2 separate regions of the Homo sapiens genome follow, and region 1 is linked to region 2. The links come from fine-mapping of genetic effects on gene expression. Tissue or cell type: monocytes. Region 2 holds a variant in brackets; the other region holds the start of a gene. All regions are shown on one strand. Distances are from middle to middle.

What was found. PIP is the estimated chance that this variant, and not a neighbour inherited with it, causes the effect.
Region 1: it holds the start of BMAL1, and the variant in region 2 is fine-mapped to the expression of BMAL1 in monocytes (Fairfax 2014, PIP 0.94).

The regions. Positions count from the first base shown.
Region 1 is chr11:13,273,936-13,282,041 of GRCh38, reverse strand. BMAL1 (basic helix-loop-helix ARNT like 1) reads right to left here and starts at 4,252. Exons shown (of 20, transcript NM_001297719.2): 1 at 4,119-4,252. RefSeq lists silencers at 3,242-3,581, 3,862-3,931, 4,002-4,651.
Region 2 is chr11:13,197,265-13,205,370 of GRCh38, reverse strand. No RefSeq gene overlaps it. Among named protein-coding and RNA genes, the nearest start is that of BMAL1, 76 kb to the left of the region's middle. The variant ATTTT/T (reference allele first, on the strand shown) is at 4,655.

The DNA of each region.
Region 1 (8,106 bases), 77 kb before region 2:
ATTACAGGCTGCCATTCATGTCCACAACGGACCTGCTAGCAGAACACAGGAGAGACAGGTCAGGGCTAGAGAGGGGACCCCAGGCCACGGACAGTGTGAATAGCAGAAGCTAGGACAGACATTTATCTTTACAGGGGTGCAGGAAGAGAATCAAGAAACCAGCATGACCCAAAGGCTGAGAGAGGAAAGGATTTCAAAGGACAAAAAACAAGTGAGGTAAAAGCTTCAAAGGGGCTGAGCACAGTGACTCACGCCTGTAATCCCAGCACTTTGGGAGGCCAGTGCAGGTGGGTCACTTGAGCCCAGGAGTTTGAGACCAGCCTGGGCAACATGGCAAAACTCCATCTCTAATAAAAATACAAAAATGAGCCAGGTGTGATGGCACGTGTCTGTAGGCTCAGCTACTCTGGAGGCTGAGGCAGGAGGATTACCTGAGACTTGGGAGGCTGCAGTGAGCCACGATTGCACCACTGCACTCCAACCAGGCAAGACTGAGACCATGTTTAAAAAAATAAAAGAAATACTGCAAAGGGGCCAAGAACAACCACTCAGGAATAAGGATGGGCAGATGGGCCCCAGGAACTCACGACAAAGTTTTGGAGAAAACTTTGAGAAGAAATATAAAGAAAGGTGGTAGCGAGAGAAGCCAGAGGGCAGGTACTAAGAATGGAGCAGGAGATGGGAGAGTGGGGGAGGCTGGCAGGAGGGAGGAAAGAGAGGCTTACGAACCCAGGGTACCAAGTAAAGACACATGTAAATTGCCTGGTACACAGCAGGCTCACCACAAGTCTGACTCTGCCTCTTCCATCCTTCCTCTCCTAAGTCAAGCCTAAGGTTTTCAGGGTGGGGCAGGGGAGACTAAGGACAAACAGCACAAATAATATTCTAGTGATAGGACCCGGGTAGAGGTGAGAAGGAATGGCAGCTGGCACAAAGGAAAGGCTTCCTGTGTGCCAGGCCTTTTACATGCACCATCTCCCTTAATCCTCACACAGACTCCACGAGGCAGGCACTGCCATTACACCAAGAGGAGAAACCTGAGGTCAGAGGAGTCAAGCACACATCCAAGACCACAAAGCCCAAACCTGAGCCATGGATTCTTCTGCCACCAGAGCCCAGGCACTTGCCCATGGTGAGAGGCCAAGAAAAGGAACAGAGGAGAGGTCCACTTGCTTTCTCTGAATTGGGAGGAGATGAGGGGACGATGGGGATAGAGACAGGACATTTTGGGTGGGAAGTAAGAGATGCTGAGGGGGTTGAGTCAGAGCAGGTCTTATTTCATGAGAGGGAGAAGAAAAGACAAGGTGGGTATTTGGGATAAATCTGAGTCTTGTGATAAGGTGACAATGAAAAAAGACTGTGGAGAAGGATAACATGCCTGTGTCCCTAGCTCCCAACGAAACCTCAAGGTCTAGAAAGGATATTTTACTTCCCTGCAAGTACCTACTTTAGTTATCATGATGCTTCCTAAAATCACTGCATGTAATCACGGGGCTGAAACTGTTTATTTAATATTGATTTTCCTACCACAGTGAGAGTTGATGATGAAATCACAAAGAAAGCTCAGATACATTATAACCCTTACACCAAAGAGAGATATTAACTATCTAGTTTTTACCTTTTCATATGCAGTTTTGTTAATACAGCCAAATCTTTCTATGGTGCTTCTCCATCTTTTAGCATATAAATTCCACAGAGATTGTTGGTGTGAAGGGATAAATCTGAAAACATGGCCACTTCCTTTTCCTGCCCTGTGGCATGCAAACCTCTTCTGCAAATAGCAGACAAACTCGTAAGTAGTCATCATTTTATAAATCATTTGAAATGGATTCTTCAAAACACCATCTGTTGATCTGCTTAACTTTCTTATGAAAATAGGGCTTCAGCTCAGATATTCTGGAGGTGCCAGGAGGTAAATACCAACCTGAATTCAAATGTATTAAATATTTAGAGACTTACAGAACTTCAAAAGAGAGGAACCTTTGAGATCACCTAGTTCAACCGTCTTACTTTCCATCAGAGGCAAACACAACCTAGAAATCTTTAATAACTTGCCCCGACTGGAACGGCCATGAGAGCCCAAGCCTAAACTAGAACCAGGATGTCCAGCTCCTAACTCCCAGGTTAGTGCTTTTCTACCAGATCTGTTCGTTCTTCAGAGGGTTGAATAAAGAACAAATTTAACTACAGTTTTAACTTATTGTTATCATTCACTGGCTGCATCTACAATCAAAACCAAAATGCTTCTACAGAACCAGCTTCAGATGATACAGGCAATTTCAAATCCTGTCCAGGAAATTTCCAAACCTTCTAAATATGTTCTATAAGCTGCGTTAAAGACTTATCAGTAAAATGATCTGAGTAACAAAACATGGACTGAAAGACTGAATTTTGTATTTTCAAAAATATTTGGGAATTCCATTGATATGGAAATCAAATATAACACCAGCGAATTTTTTTAAGTCTTGCAAGCAGAGAGAGCATGATATTATTCAAAACTGCTCAGGAGCAGCAATGATTATTTTAAGCTCATGATTCAACGGGTACATTAATTAAAAACTCCACCAACCCAAATTCACAGATCCGGATATCAATGAGACCAGAAGAATTAAAATAATAGTTGTCATTTAATAATAGATTAAAGGGGTGAACAACAGCAGATGTCAGAAGGACAAATGACAAGCAAGCAGGTGTCGTGGGAAATGAATGCATCTAAGGGGCAGCTTTTATGGATGTTTAATAAAACGACGATGCTGGAAATACGGGTATACGGGTAGTGTCAAGAAAAGCTTGTTCACAAATACGGAATCTGATTTTTGGAAGCTGGGTGAGAAAACTTGGCTAATAATTCCTCGCTGAGGAGTAGCGGTGGAAGAAGGAAGAGACCGCAAGCGCCAAAGCGCCAAAACAACGCTAGGTGACCGGGAAGGGGCCGAGGCGGAGAGGGGAGAGGGGTCAGGAGGTGCGGGGTGCGCGGCGGCAGCGGGTCTCTCACCGGCCGGCGAGAACTTGACAGCAGGCGCCGGTGTCCAGCACTCCCCTTCCCTCCCCAGCTCCTGCCGGCGGGCACCTGAGCTCACCCCGCTGCCGGCTCTCGCGACCCCTCGGGGAGGCTAACATGCGCCCCACAAGGTCGACGTTCACCTCTACCTTCCTCGTCTTCTTCCAAGCAAACGGGAAGCTCTCTGGGATGTCAACGCCCGGCAATAGCCGAGCGGGAACCTTTTCTTCCCTGACATCTGTCAAACCCGGAGCTGGAGCCAGGCTCGCTGCGCCCTCCGCGGAGCTCTGGGACTCCAAGGCCGGCCCGCACCCGGGCTCCGGGCGACATCCCCAGGCCGACGCGCACCTGCCCGCAGACCCACGGGGCATCCTTGAGGGCCGCCCAGGACCTGGACGGCACAGGCCCCACGAAAGTTCGCAGGCTGGGGTCGGCCCCGTGCCGGCCGGGGATTCCCGGGTGCAGCGCCAGCCCTGGCTACAGGGCCGAAGGGGCGGGCGGACTTGGACTCCCCAAGCCCGACGGAGACGCCCTCCCCGCCCCCACCCAGCCTCGCGGGCTCCCGAAAGGGAAGTGAAGCGGGGAGGAAGGGCAGACGCGGCACCGTTCGCCCAACGCCCTTGAGGGGCAGCCACCAGGCATGGTCCCCTCGGGGATCCCCGAAGCTCCCGGGGACACATCTAGGAGTCCTCTTCGGCCGAGTCACTGCCCCCAAGGGCAGAGCTATCCCTTTAAGAGGCAGCTAGCTGCCCCCTCCCCCCGCCAGGTAGCGATGCCCGCGGAAGGGCGGTGGGTACTCCAGCGAACACTTTCCCGGCCCCTTTAAGGGCTCCTGCAGCACCTCTGCCTGCCCTAGCCCGCAGCGGCAGCCCCCGCGAGGAGGATGGGGGCGGACGGGCGCGGCGCCTTTAAGGGGCGCAGCCTCCCCACGGCCCGGGTGGGGGCAGGGAGCGGTCACGGGCCCTTTAAGGCCGGCAGCGGGCACGTCGGGCAGGGTTCTTCGGCGGCCGGGTTGCCCCCGGGGCGGCGGCAGGGGCGCAGCGCCCGCGAGGGTGCTAACGGCCCCCGACGGGGTGCGCGGGATCGCGTCGCTGGCCGCCGCCGGCCTGACACTCACCGTGGCTCGCCGGGAGCGCCCGCGCCCGCGCCCGCACTCGGATCCCGCGGCGGCGGCGGCGGTGAGTCCGGCGCGGGTAAACAGGCACCTCCGTCCCTGACCTACTTTCTGCCTTCCCTAAATGTCGCACCACTAACCTACTTTCCGACCAATCCGCTCCCCGCCGGCCCAGGCCCGGCCCCCCGCCCACCAATCGCTGTGCCCAACCCCCCTTCCCCGCCCACCAATGGAGGAGCCGCAGCGCCCGGATACCTGCCTCTTCCCGCCAGCCAATCCGAACGCCCGAAGGGAGCCGGTCCCGGCGGCCGCCCCCAGCCAATCCGCGCGCGGCTCGGCAGCCCGCTGGCCAGTTGTGTGGCGGCTAGAGAGGCCGCTGACCAATGGCGAGGCGGCGGGAGCCGGTTTACCTGCTACTTTCCTGCCACCAATCATTTGGCGCACAGGAGCGCACGCCCCGAGGAGAGGACCAATCCGCGCGCGCTCCCTGGGTTCCTCGCCCCTGCCCTCTCCCTTTCCCCTCAGGTCTCCCACTAGCCGCGGCCACTGCGGTGCCCAAGCCGCGCTCCTCGGGGTCGCCCGGGATGTCCCTCTTCTCTGGGTCCCCTGCCGGCTGGCGTTTGGCCGCCCGCCCTCACCCCTCCTCCTTCTTCTTCTCCCCTCCGGGCATTCCGACGAAAAGCAGCAGTTCCTGACTCCCTCTCTCCCTCCGGCTCCATCTAGGAAACCAATTTTAGGAACGTTGAGTGCCAGACCCTTCCTAAAATCCCTGGTTTGCCAAAGTCTCAACGAGAGAACGGATACTTAGTATTTCTAGAAGGCATTTCCACCCCGAGGACTGCAAGTGTTCTCACGTTCTTTGCGTTCATCATGACCTCCAAGTGTCCCACTGGAGCTGTCATTCCCGTAGTTCCAAAGAGAATACTCGAGCGCGGAGCGATTCCATTGCATTTCCTTCCAGTAGCCAGGTTTTGACCACTTACTGAAGAGTAGACACCAGCCCCGCGGCAGCGCTCTCTGCTGCAAAAAGCTGTCTACGGAGCAAGACGGAAGGAAACAGTTACAGAAAATAAAAATTTGATAACGACATGCGACTCGGTTGCTGAGAGGACAGAGAAAGTGACTTATTTTTGCATCTCAGGCACTTTGTAGAGGGCCTTTAGCACAAAGAACTCCCGGCTCTTCCAGATGTTAAACTCCCTGAATAGAAGGACAGCGTCTTCTTTTTCGTTATCCATCATGTCAGCTCTCCTTTAGCGCCTGCTGGGGTAGGGTGGAGTGGTGGGGGCGGGGCTGGCACCCAACAAGTGCACCATAAATATCTGTTGGCTGGATACATGAACAAATGGAATTAAATAAATTGGCCTAATTCTGTTACCCAGACTGGCCCCCGTGACTCTAGACTTCTAGCCTGGTAAGTTCCTTGAACACAGACACTGCGTTTTTTAATCTCTGTAACACCATTGCCCATCCCCAGCTCATTGACAGGCACGGAGTGCCCAATATGTGCTTGTGGTCTGAATGCTGACTGTTTTCGAGGTCAAGCAATTCCGTCGGTAGCTTGCTATTTTTCCGAAGTTTACACGCAGGTGGAATCTTATTGCTCCTTTGTCTCTGCCCCCATTTCATGAGGAGATCACTCTAGGTAAGTGGGACTTAAGCGAAGCACTTGACAAGATATCATAGACAAGATGAAGAAATATGGGCTGGATGCTAGTATCATTAATTGGACTAATAACTGGTTAAGTAACCATAACCTAAAGATGCTGATTGATGAGTCGACGTTGACCGAAAAGAAGATTGCAGGGAGTCAGCATTCCAGCAGCACCTACTACGTACCAGACACTGTGCTAAGTACTTTCCCCTCATGTTCTCCCTTAATCTTTATAACCACACTGTGAGGAAGCTTTTATTGCCCCATTTTACAGATGGGGAAACTGAAACTCAGAATTTAGCTAGCTGGCCAAAGGTCACACAGTAGGTGGCAGAGCCGTGATTCAAACTAGACTTTTTCTTTTTATTTCAAAGCCTCTATACCACACCAGTTACCCTCAGAATGACAGAAGCCTCTCTCCCAGGTCCAGACATCAGAACTTTTATCAGTGTTCTGAAGGAAAATCCAGAAGATTCGCATCACATGTCCAGATGACACAAAGCCAGGAGGGGAAGAGACGCTGTTACACAAACCACATACAATATTGGAGCAGTGGGCTGACTCTAACAGGGGTAAATGTGGAGTCCCACCCTGTGTGAAGCCAGCCGGAGGCAGAGGTGTCTTAGATGCTTACAGGAGCAAGATAAAGGGTCTTAGGTGACAAATAATCTGAGTCCACAGTGAATTGTGGCTGCCAAAATAAATAAACGCTCTTAGGCTGCATCAGTGGAAGTCTGACATGTAAAGCAAGATAGGTGTTATTGTGCTGCCCAGTGTTGGTCAGTACCCACATGAAGTATTGTCTGCAATTAAGACTTGGCAGAAAGAAATTATCTACATGCACAAGTAGAGGGACCAGGATGTAAAGAGGCTAGAAACTATGTCATATGAGGAAATATTAAAGGAAGCAGAAGGTTTTGCCCCAGGGGTACAAGGTAACTGTCTTGATATATGTGAAGAACTGTCAAATAGAAGAGAAATTAAACTTATACTTAAGGGCCTTAAGGGGTTGAAGGAGAACCTGTGGGTAGAAACTCTAGAATGAATCAATATGAACAATTTTCTAACAGCTAGAGCATCCTCTGCCTTGATTAATTGAGTTTCTTGTCACAAAAAATGTCCAAGTGAGAATTGGATTACCATGCAGTGGGAGGCGGGCTGAAATAGGTGTCTTTGTGGACTCCCTTCCTCTGAGATTCTCATCTTGTACCCTGGCTTTCCTCTTTTAAAGGTTATCACCCTGCCTTATCCTACCCTCAGTGGCCAAGCAACTGTCTTCCCTCATGTGCACCTGTTTTTCCCTGTGTAATTACACCTTTCTTTGTGGTTCTCTCTGTTGGAGATCCCAAACACCTCCTTCCACTACTACCTAACTTCCCTTTTCTTTTCTACTTTCCAGGATACTGAACTTTCAATTCATAGGGCACTGCTAAGGTCAAAATATTGTCCTCAATGTAAATTTTACTGGGCATGAGTAGAATCATGTGGATAAAAGGAAGATAAGAGAGAGCATTTATTTGCACCTACTGTGTACCAGATGCTTTAAATACATTATTTAATATAATCCTCACGTTAACCCTAGCAGTTGATATGCTTGCCCTCCACACTTGCTAGCTGGATGACTTTTATCAAATTGCTTAACCTCTTTGTACCTCAGTTTCCTCATCTGTAAAAGGGGGATAATCTAGTGTCTACTTCATAGGGCTGTTATAAGAGTTCAATGTGATGATAGATGGAAAGCCCTTAACACAGTGCCTGGCATACAGTCAAGATGTGATACATATTAGGTATCACTCTTAACAATTCTATGAAATAGATATTTCTTGCTCCTGTTTTACAGATGAAGTTAGTGAGGATAAAGTAGTATAATCTACAGTAGTTTCCCTGACTCTGATCCAATGATTGGATCCATTAGAATTACCTGGGGAGTTTTAAAAAATACAGACTTCAGAGTCCTGTTCTGGAAGATTCTGATTGCGTTTCTTTGGGATTTGACATTTGTGAATGGTTTGATCTGTTAACCAAGGTTGACATCTGGGTGTACAAAAAATGGGAATTAAAAAAAAAATCAGGCATTAATGAGTTAACCAGTGTTTATAGCTTTTTCAGCTGCTTTTGAAAAGACCTTCCTTGGCTCTTTTTTTAATGGGATGGCCATAGCAGCTCAGAATGGGAGAGCAGTAATACCTCATTTGGAATGTGTCCTAGACTGTGTAATTAGGCTTTAGACTAGATCTTGCTTGCAGACATGGCCAAGATTCCAAAGATCTTGGTGCTCAGATGTGAAAGGGGCTTTTCCGTTTGGCTAGAGGAAGCTAAAGCACCAGTGGCCACATG
Region 2 (8,106 bases):
TATTGCTGCAGTTTCAGGTTGTTAGCCTAGTATGGTGACAGAAATTCACTAAGGGGGAAAAATTGGCTAGGTGCGGTGTCTCATGCCTGTAATCCCAGCACTTTGGGAGGCTGAAGTGAGCCGACTGCTTGAGCTCAGGAGTTCAAGACCAGCCTGGGCAAAATGGTGAAACCTTGTCTCTACAAAAAATACAAAAATTAGCTGGGCGTGGTGGCGTGCACTTGTAGTGCCAGATACTCAGGAGGCTGAGGTGGGAGGATCACTTGAGCCCGGGAGGAGGAGATTTCAGTGAGCCGAGATTATGCCCTGACACTCCAGCCTGGGTGACAGAGCCAGACTCTGTCCCCCCCACCCCAAAAAAAGTCCTTTTGTTGAAGACACACCTTAATGGATTTGTTTGCCTATAAAAAGTGAAGGTTTTCCTGAGCAGAGAGGGAGACAATGAATTGCTGTGTATGAGAGAGTGAAAAGAAAATAATAATTTTGGAATTGGAGTTGTCTTCTACTGGGTCCTTGAGAAGGTACTGGTGACACAGTAAAGAAGGTAATGTTTTGAACCTGGCTATGCATTAAAGTTACTGGGGGGACTTTGATTTTTGAGACTTAAAAAAAATAAATTTTGAAAACAAATCTGGAAATTGTACAAATCGTACATGCATAGTCTGATGGATTTTCACTCACTAAGCGTGCCTGTGTAATCATCCTTTGGGTAAGAAGGTAAATATCACTAGTACCCAGGTGTCCCCTCCCAGGTGCTGCCCTACTCCTTCAAGGCAACCATGACTCTGATTTCTAACACCATTGATAGTTCTGCCTGTTTTCGAATCACATGTAATGTATTGTTCTTTTTGTTGGATTTCTCTTTTTTCACGTTATTGTTGTGAGATTCAACCATGTTGATACAGGTAGCAGGAATTTGGTCACTTTCATTGCTGTATAGCATGAACACAGCAAGAATGTGTAGTATGGGTATTCCTCAGTTTATTTGTCCATCGTTGATGGACGTTTGTGTTGTTTCCAGTGTTTGGCTATTTTTCACACTGCTGTTATAAACGTTCTTTAAAATTAATTTTACTGTGATAAAATATATATAACATAACATTTTCTATTTTAATCATTTTGAGGATATAATCCAATGCCATTAGTTACACTCACTATCTACTATCTACTTCCAGACATTCTTTTTTTTGTAACAACTTCATTGAGATTTAATTCACCATTACATAATTCATTTGTTTAAAGTCTAAAATTCAATGACTTTTAGAATATTCACAGAGTTGTGCAACCATCACCACAATCAATTTTGGAACTTTTTTTAATCACCCCAAATAGTATAGATACCCTGTATTCATTAGCAGTCACTCTTCATTTCCACCCACCAGGCCCTCCCAGCCCTAGGCAACTACTAAACTACTTTCTGTTTTTATAAATTTGCCTATTCTGGACATTCCATGTAAATAGAATTATCCATTATTAGGTCTTTTCTGACTGGCTTCTTTCACTTAGCATAACATTTTCAAGGTTCATTCATGTTGTAGCATGTGTCAGTAAGTACTTCAATCCTTTTTATCACTGAAATGTAGTCCATTATACGGCCAGATATACTACATTTTATTTATCCATTCATCATTTGATGGACATCTGAGTAGTTTCCAAGCTTTGGCTGTTATGAATAATGCTGCTATAAAGATTTATGTGCAAATGTTTCTGTGAATATGTTTTCATTTCTCACTCTTGTTTTTTGTTAGACACAGGGTCTCACTCTATTGCCCAGGCTGGAGTAGAGTGGTGTGATCACAGCTCACTGAAGGCTCTAATACCTGGGCTCAAGCAATCCTCTTGCCTCAGCCTCCTAAGCAGCTGGGACTGCAGATGTACACCACCACACTTGGCTAATTTTTTTTTTTTTTTTTTTTTTTTTTTTGTAGAGACAGGGTCTCACTATGTTGCCTAGGCTGGTCTCAAACTCCTGGCCTCAAGTGATCCTCCTGCCTTGCACTCACAAAGTGCTGGGAGCACAAGCATGAGCCACTACACTTGGCCTGTTTTCATTTTTCTTGGAGATATACCCCTAGCAGTAAAATTGCTGGGTCATACGGTAACTCTGTATTCAACATTTTCAGTAATTGCCAGACTGTTTTCCAAAGTGGCTTCATCATTTTATGATATCATCAGTGGCGTATGAAGGTTCCAATTCCTTCACACCCTTGTTAACACTCATTATTGTGGTCTTTTTTTAAAAAAAATTTAATTGACGAATAATAATTGTATGGATTGCTTTTAGCCATCATCATAGGTGTAAAGTAATGTCTCATACTGGTTTTTATTTGCATTTCTTTGATGGTTAATGATGTTGAGCATGTTTTCATGTGCTTATTGGTCATTTGCATATCTTCTTTGGAGAAATGTCTGTTAAAATCCTTTGCCCATTTTTAAAATTGAGTGATGTGGTTTTTTAAAACTTATTTTAGATATTAATCACTTATCAGATATATGATTTGCAAATATTTTCTCCCATTTTGTGAGTTATAATTTCATTTTCTTGATATTATCATTTGAAGCACCAATTTATTTATTTACTTATAAATTTTACATAATTTTTCTTCTAATCGTTTTAAAAATAATTTCAACTTTTATTTTAGATTTGGGGGCACATGTGCAGGTTTGATACCTGGGTATATTGTATAATGCTGAGGTTTGGGGGTACAATTGATCCATCACCCAGGTACTGAGCATAGTACTCAATAGTTTTTCAACCTTTGCCCCTTCCCTCCCGCCTCCCCCAGTCATCCCCAGTGTCTATTGTTGCCATCTTTAAGGGCATGAGTATCCAATATTTAGTTCCCACTTATCAATGAGAACATGCAGTATTTGGTTTTCTGTTTCTGCATTAATTTGCTTAGAATAATGACCTCCAGCTGCATCCATATTGCTGCAAAAGATATGATTTTATTATTTTTTAATGGCTGCATAGTATTCCATGGTATATATGTACCACATTTTTTTTATCCAGTCCACCATTGATGGGAATGTAGGTTGATTCCATGTCTTTGCTATTGTTAATAGTGCTATGATGAACATACAAGTGCAGGTGTCTTTTTGGTAGAACGATTTATTTTCCTTTGGGTATATACCCAGTAGTGGGATTGCTGGGTGAAATGTTAGTTCTATTTGAAGTTCTTTGAGAAATCTCCAGACTTCTTTCCACAGTGGCTGAACTAATTTACATTCCCGCCAACAGTGTATAAGTGTTCTCTTTTCTCTGTAGCCTTGCCATCATCTGTTGTTTTTGACTTTTTAATAATAGTCATTCTGACGGGTTTGAGATAGTTTCTCATTGTAGTTTTGATTTGCATTTTTTTGATGATTAGTAATGTTAAACATTTTTCCATGTGTTTGTTGGCCATTTGCATATCTTCTTTTGAAAAGTGTCTGTTTATATCTTTTGCCCATTTTAAAAATGTTTGCTTTTTCGGTTAAGTTGCTTATAGATTCTGGGTATTAGACCTTCGTCAGATGCACATTATGTGAATATTTTCTTCTGTATGTTGTCTCTTTATTCTATTGATAGTTCTTTTGCTGTGCAAAAGCTCTTTAGTTTAATTAGGTCTCACTTGTCAATTTTTGTTTTTGTTACAATTGCTATTGAGGGCTTAGTCATAAATTCTTTTTCAAGGCCAATGTCCAGAAAGGTGTTTCCTGGGTTTTCTTCTAGAATTCCTGTATTTTGAGGTCTTACATTTAAATCTAATTCATCCTGAGTTAATTTTTTATATGGTGAAAGGTAAGAATCCAGTTTCATTCTTCTGCATATGGCTAGCAGGTTATCCCAGCACCTTTTGTTGAATAGGGAATCCTTTCCCTATAGCTTATTTTTGTTGACTTCGTCAAATGTCAGATGGCTGTAGGTGTGCAGCTTTATTTCTGCTTCTCTATTCTGTTCCATTGGCCTACGCATCTGTTTTTGTACCAGTACCATGCTGTTTTGTTTACTGTAGCCTTATAGTATAGTTTGAAGGCTATAGTATACTATAGCCTTATAGTATAGTCAGGTAATGTCATGCCTTTGGCTTTGTTCTTTTTGCTTAGGTGCTTTTGTTATTTGGGCCCTTTTTTGGTTCCATATGAATTTTAGAATAGTTTTTTCTATTATAGTCTTGTGAAAAATGATGTTAGTAGTTTACAAGAATAGCACTGAATCTGTAGATTGCTTTGGGCAGTATGGTCATTTTAATCATACTGAGTCTTCTAATCCATGAGCATAGAATGTTTTTCTGTTTGTGTCATTTATGATTTATTTCCGTAGTGTTTTGTAGTTCTCCTTGTAGAGATCATTCACCTCCCTTGTTAGATGTAATCTTAAGTATTTTATTGCTTTTTTGTGGCCACTGTAAGTGGAATTTTATCATTTATTTGGCTCTCAGCATGAGCATTATTGGTGTATAGAAATGTTACCTATTTTTGTACATTAATTTTGTATCCTGGAACTTTACTGAAGTCATTTATCCATTCCAGGAGGCTTTTGGTGGAGATTTAGGGCTTTCTAGGTATGGAATCATATCGTCAGTGAAGAGAGATAGTTTGACTTCTTCTTTTCCTATTTGTATACCATTTATTTATTTATTTATTTATTTATTTATTTATTTATTTATTT[ATTTT/T]GAGACAGAGTATTGCTCTGTTGCCCAGGCTGGAGTGCAGGCGCAATCTCAGCTCATTGCAACCTTTGCCTCTGGGGTTCAAGCGATTCTCCTGCCTCAGCCTCCCAAGTAGCTGGAACTACAGGCACATGCCACCATGCCTGGCTAATTTTTAGTAGAGTGGGGTTTCACCATGTTGGCCAGGCTGGTCTCGAACTCCTGACCTCAGGTGATCCACCCACCTTGGCCTCCCAAAATGCTGGGATTATAGGTGTGAGCCACCATGCCCCGCCTATATCTTTCTCCTGCTGATTTGGTTTGGATCTGTGTCCCCACCAAATCTCATGTGCAATTGTAATCCTCAGTGTTGGAGGTGGGCTTGGTGGGAGGGGAGACACTTTTAAACAACCAGATCTTGTGAGAACTCTATCACAAGAACAGCACCAAAGGGATAGTGCTAAACCATTCATGAAGGATCCACCCCCATGATCCAATCCCCTCCCACCAAGCCCACCTCCAACATTGAGGATTATTATTCTAGCTAACAATCTATTAATGTTGTTTATCCTTTCAACGAATCAACTTTTGGTTTTGTTGATTCTTTGTGTGGGTCTGGAGGTCTCCTGCTCCTGCCATGTAAGATACTTACTCCCATTTTGCCTTCTACTTTGAGTAGAAGCTCTCTGAGGCCTCCCCGGAAGCAAATGATACCATGCTTCCTATATAGCCTGTGGAACCATGAGCCAATTAAACCTCTGTTCTTTATTTATTACCTAGTCTCAGGTATTTCTTTATAGCAATGTCAGAATGGACTAATGCATCTGCCTAATTGCTCTGGCTAGGACCTTCAGTACTATGTTGAATAGGAGTGGTGAGAATGGGCTTCCTGTCTTTTTCCAGTTTCCAAATATGCTTTCATTTGCCCATCAGTATGATTCTGGCTGTGGGTTTATCATAAATGGCTCTTATTATTTTGAGGTATGTTCCTTTGATGCCTAGTTTGTTGAGTGTTTTTATTGTGAAGGGATGTTGGATTATATCAAAAGCTTTTCCCACATCTATTAAGATGATCATATGTTTTATGTTTTTAATTCTGTTTATGTGGTGAATCGCATTTATTGATTTGCATATGTTGAACCAACCTTGCATCCCAGGAATAAAGCCTACTTAAGCAGGGTGAATTAACTTTTTGATGTGCTGCTGAGTTTGGTTGAGGATTTTCCTGAAGATTTTTGCATCCATATTCATTGGAGATATTGACCTATAGTTTTTCCTTTTTTTCACTGTATTTTTTTTTTGGCCAGTTTTTGGTATCAGGGTGATGCTGGCTTCATAGAATCAGTTAGAAAAGAGTCCCTCATCCTGGATTTTTTGGAATAGTTTTAGCATTGGTACCAGCTCTTCTTTGTGTGTCTGGTAGAATTCAGCTGTACATCCATCTAGCCTGGGGCTGTTTCTACTTGGTAGATTTTTTTTTTTTAATTACAGATTCAATTTCAGAACTCGATATTGGTCTGTTCAGGGTTTCGATTTATAGCTGATTCAGTCTTGGGAGATTGTGTTTTGCCAGGAATGTATCCATTTCCTCTAGATATTTTAGTATGCTTAGAGGTGTTCATAATAGTCTCTGAGGATCTTTTGCATTTCTGTGAGATTGGTTGTAGTGTCACCTTTATCATTTCTGATTGTGCTTATTTGGATCTTCTCTTTTGTTTTTTATTATTCTAGCTAACAATCTATTAATGCTGTTTATCCTTTCAAAGAATCAACTTTTGGTTTTGTTGATTCTTTGTGTGGTCCTGGAGGTCTCAATTTCATTCAGTCCTGCTCTGATTTTAGATATTTCTTTTTCTCTGATAGCTTTGGGGTTAGTTTGTTCTTGTTTTTTCTAATACTTCTAAATGTGATGTTAGATTGTTAATTTGAGACCTTTCTCTTTTAAGGTAGGTGTTTAGCACTATAAACTTTCCACTTAACACTGCTTTTGCCACATACCAGAGATTTTGGTATGTTGTGTCTTTGTTTTCATTTATTTCAAAGAATGTTTTCATTTCTGCCTTAATTTTATTGTTTACCCAAAAGACATTCAGCAACAAGTTGTTTAATTTCCAGGTAATTTTGTGGTCTTGAAGAGATCTTCTTGCTGTTGACTTCTATTTTTATTCCATTGTGGTCTGAGAGTATGATTGGTATAATTTTGATTTGTTTTAATTTATTGAGATTTGCTTTATGGCCAAGTGTGTGGTCAATCTTGGAGTATGTTCCATGTGCAGATGCAAAAAATGTATATTCTGTGGTTGGTGGGTGGAATATGCTATAGATGTCTATCAGGTCCGATTGGTTGAGTGTCGAATTTAAGTCCAGATTTTATTTGTTAGTTTTCTGCCTCGATGATCTAACACTGTCAGTGGGGTGTTGATGTCTACCACTATTATTATGCAACTAAGTCTTTTCATAGGCCCACAAGTACTTGTTTTATGAATCTGGGTGCTCCAATGTTGGGTGCATATATATTTAGTAAAGTCTTGTCGAATTAAACCCTTTATCATGATGTAATGCCCTTCTTAGTCCTTTCTTACTGTTGTTAGTTTAAAGTCTGTTTTATCTGATATAAGAACAGAAACCCCTGATCTTTTTGGTTTTTCATTTGTGTGACAAATCTTTCTCCTACCCTTTACTTTGAGCCTATGTGTGTCTTTACATGTGAAATGAGTCTCCTCAGTACAGCAGACAGATGGATCTTCTTTTCTAAATTCAACTTGCCACTCTGTGCCTTTTAAGTGGGGGTGTTCAGAGCATCTACATTCAAGATTAATATTGATATGCAAGGTTTTGATCCTATCATCAAGTTGTTAAGTGGTTACTTTGTAGTTTATATTATGTGGTTACTTTATAGGGTCTGTGGGCTATGTACTTAACTGTGTTTTTTTGATAGCAGGTATCCTTCTTTCACTTCCATGATTAGAACTCCCTTAAGGACTTTTTGTAAGGTTGGTCTAGTGGTAACAAATTTCCTTAGTGCATGCTTGTCTGGAAAATATTTTATTTTTCCTTTGCTTATGAAGCTTAGTTTGGCAGGATATAAAATTCTTGGTTGAAATTTCTTTTCTTTAAGAATGCTGAAAACTATCCCAGTTAAACAAAAATAAAGAAAAAAGAATTTAGAAAATGAGCAAAAGTCTTCAAGAAATATGGGATTAGAATTAGAAGAATTTCAAGCTCTGAAATTCTTTCTTCTGCTTGGTCCAGTCTATTGATAAAGCTTTCAATTGTATTTTGAAATTCCTTAAGTGAGTTTTTCAATTCCAGTAGCTCTGATTGATTTCTTTTTAAGACTTCTATCTCCGCTTTCATTTCATGGATTGATTTAGAAGTTTCTTTTTGCTGATTTTCAACCTTGTCTTGGAACTCATTAAGCTTCCTTGCAATCCATGTTTTGAATTCTTTGTCATTTCTTAGTTTCCCTTTT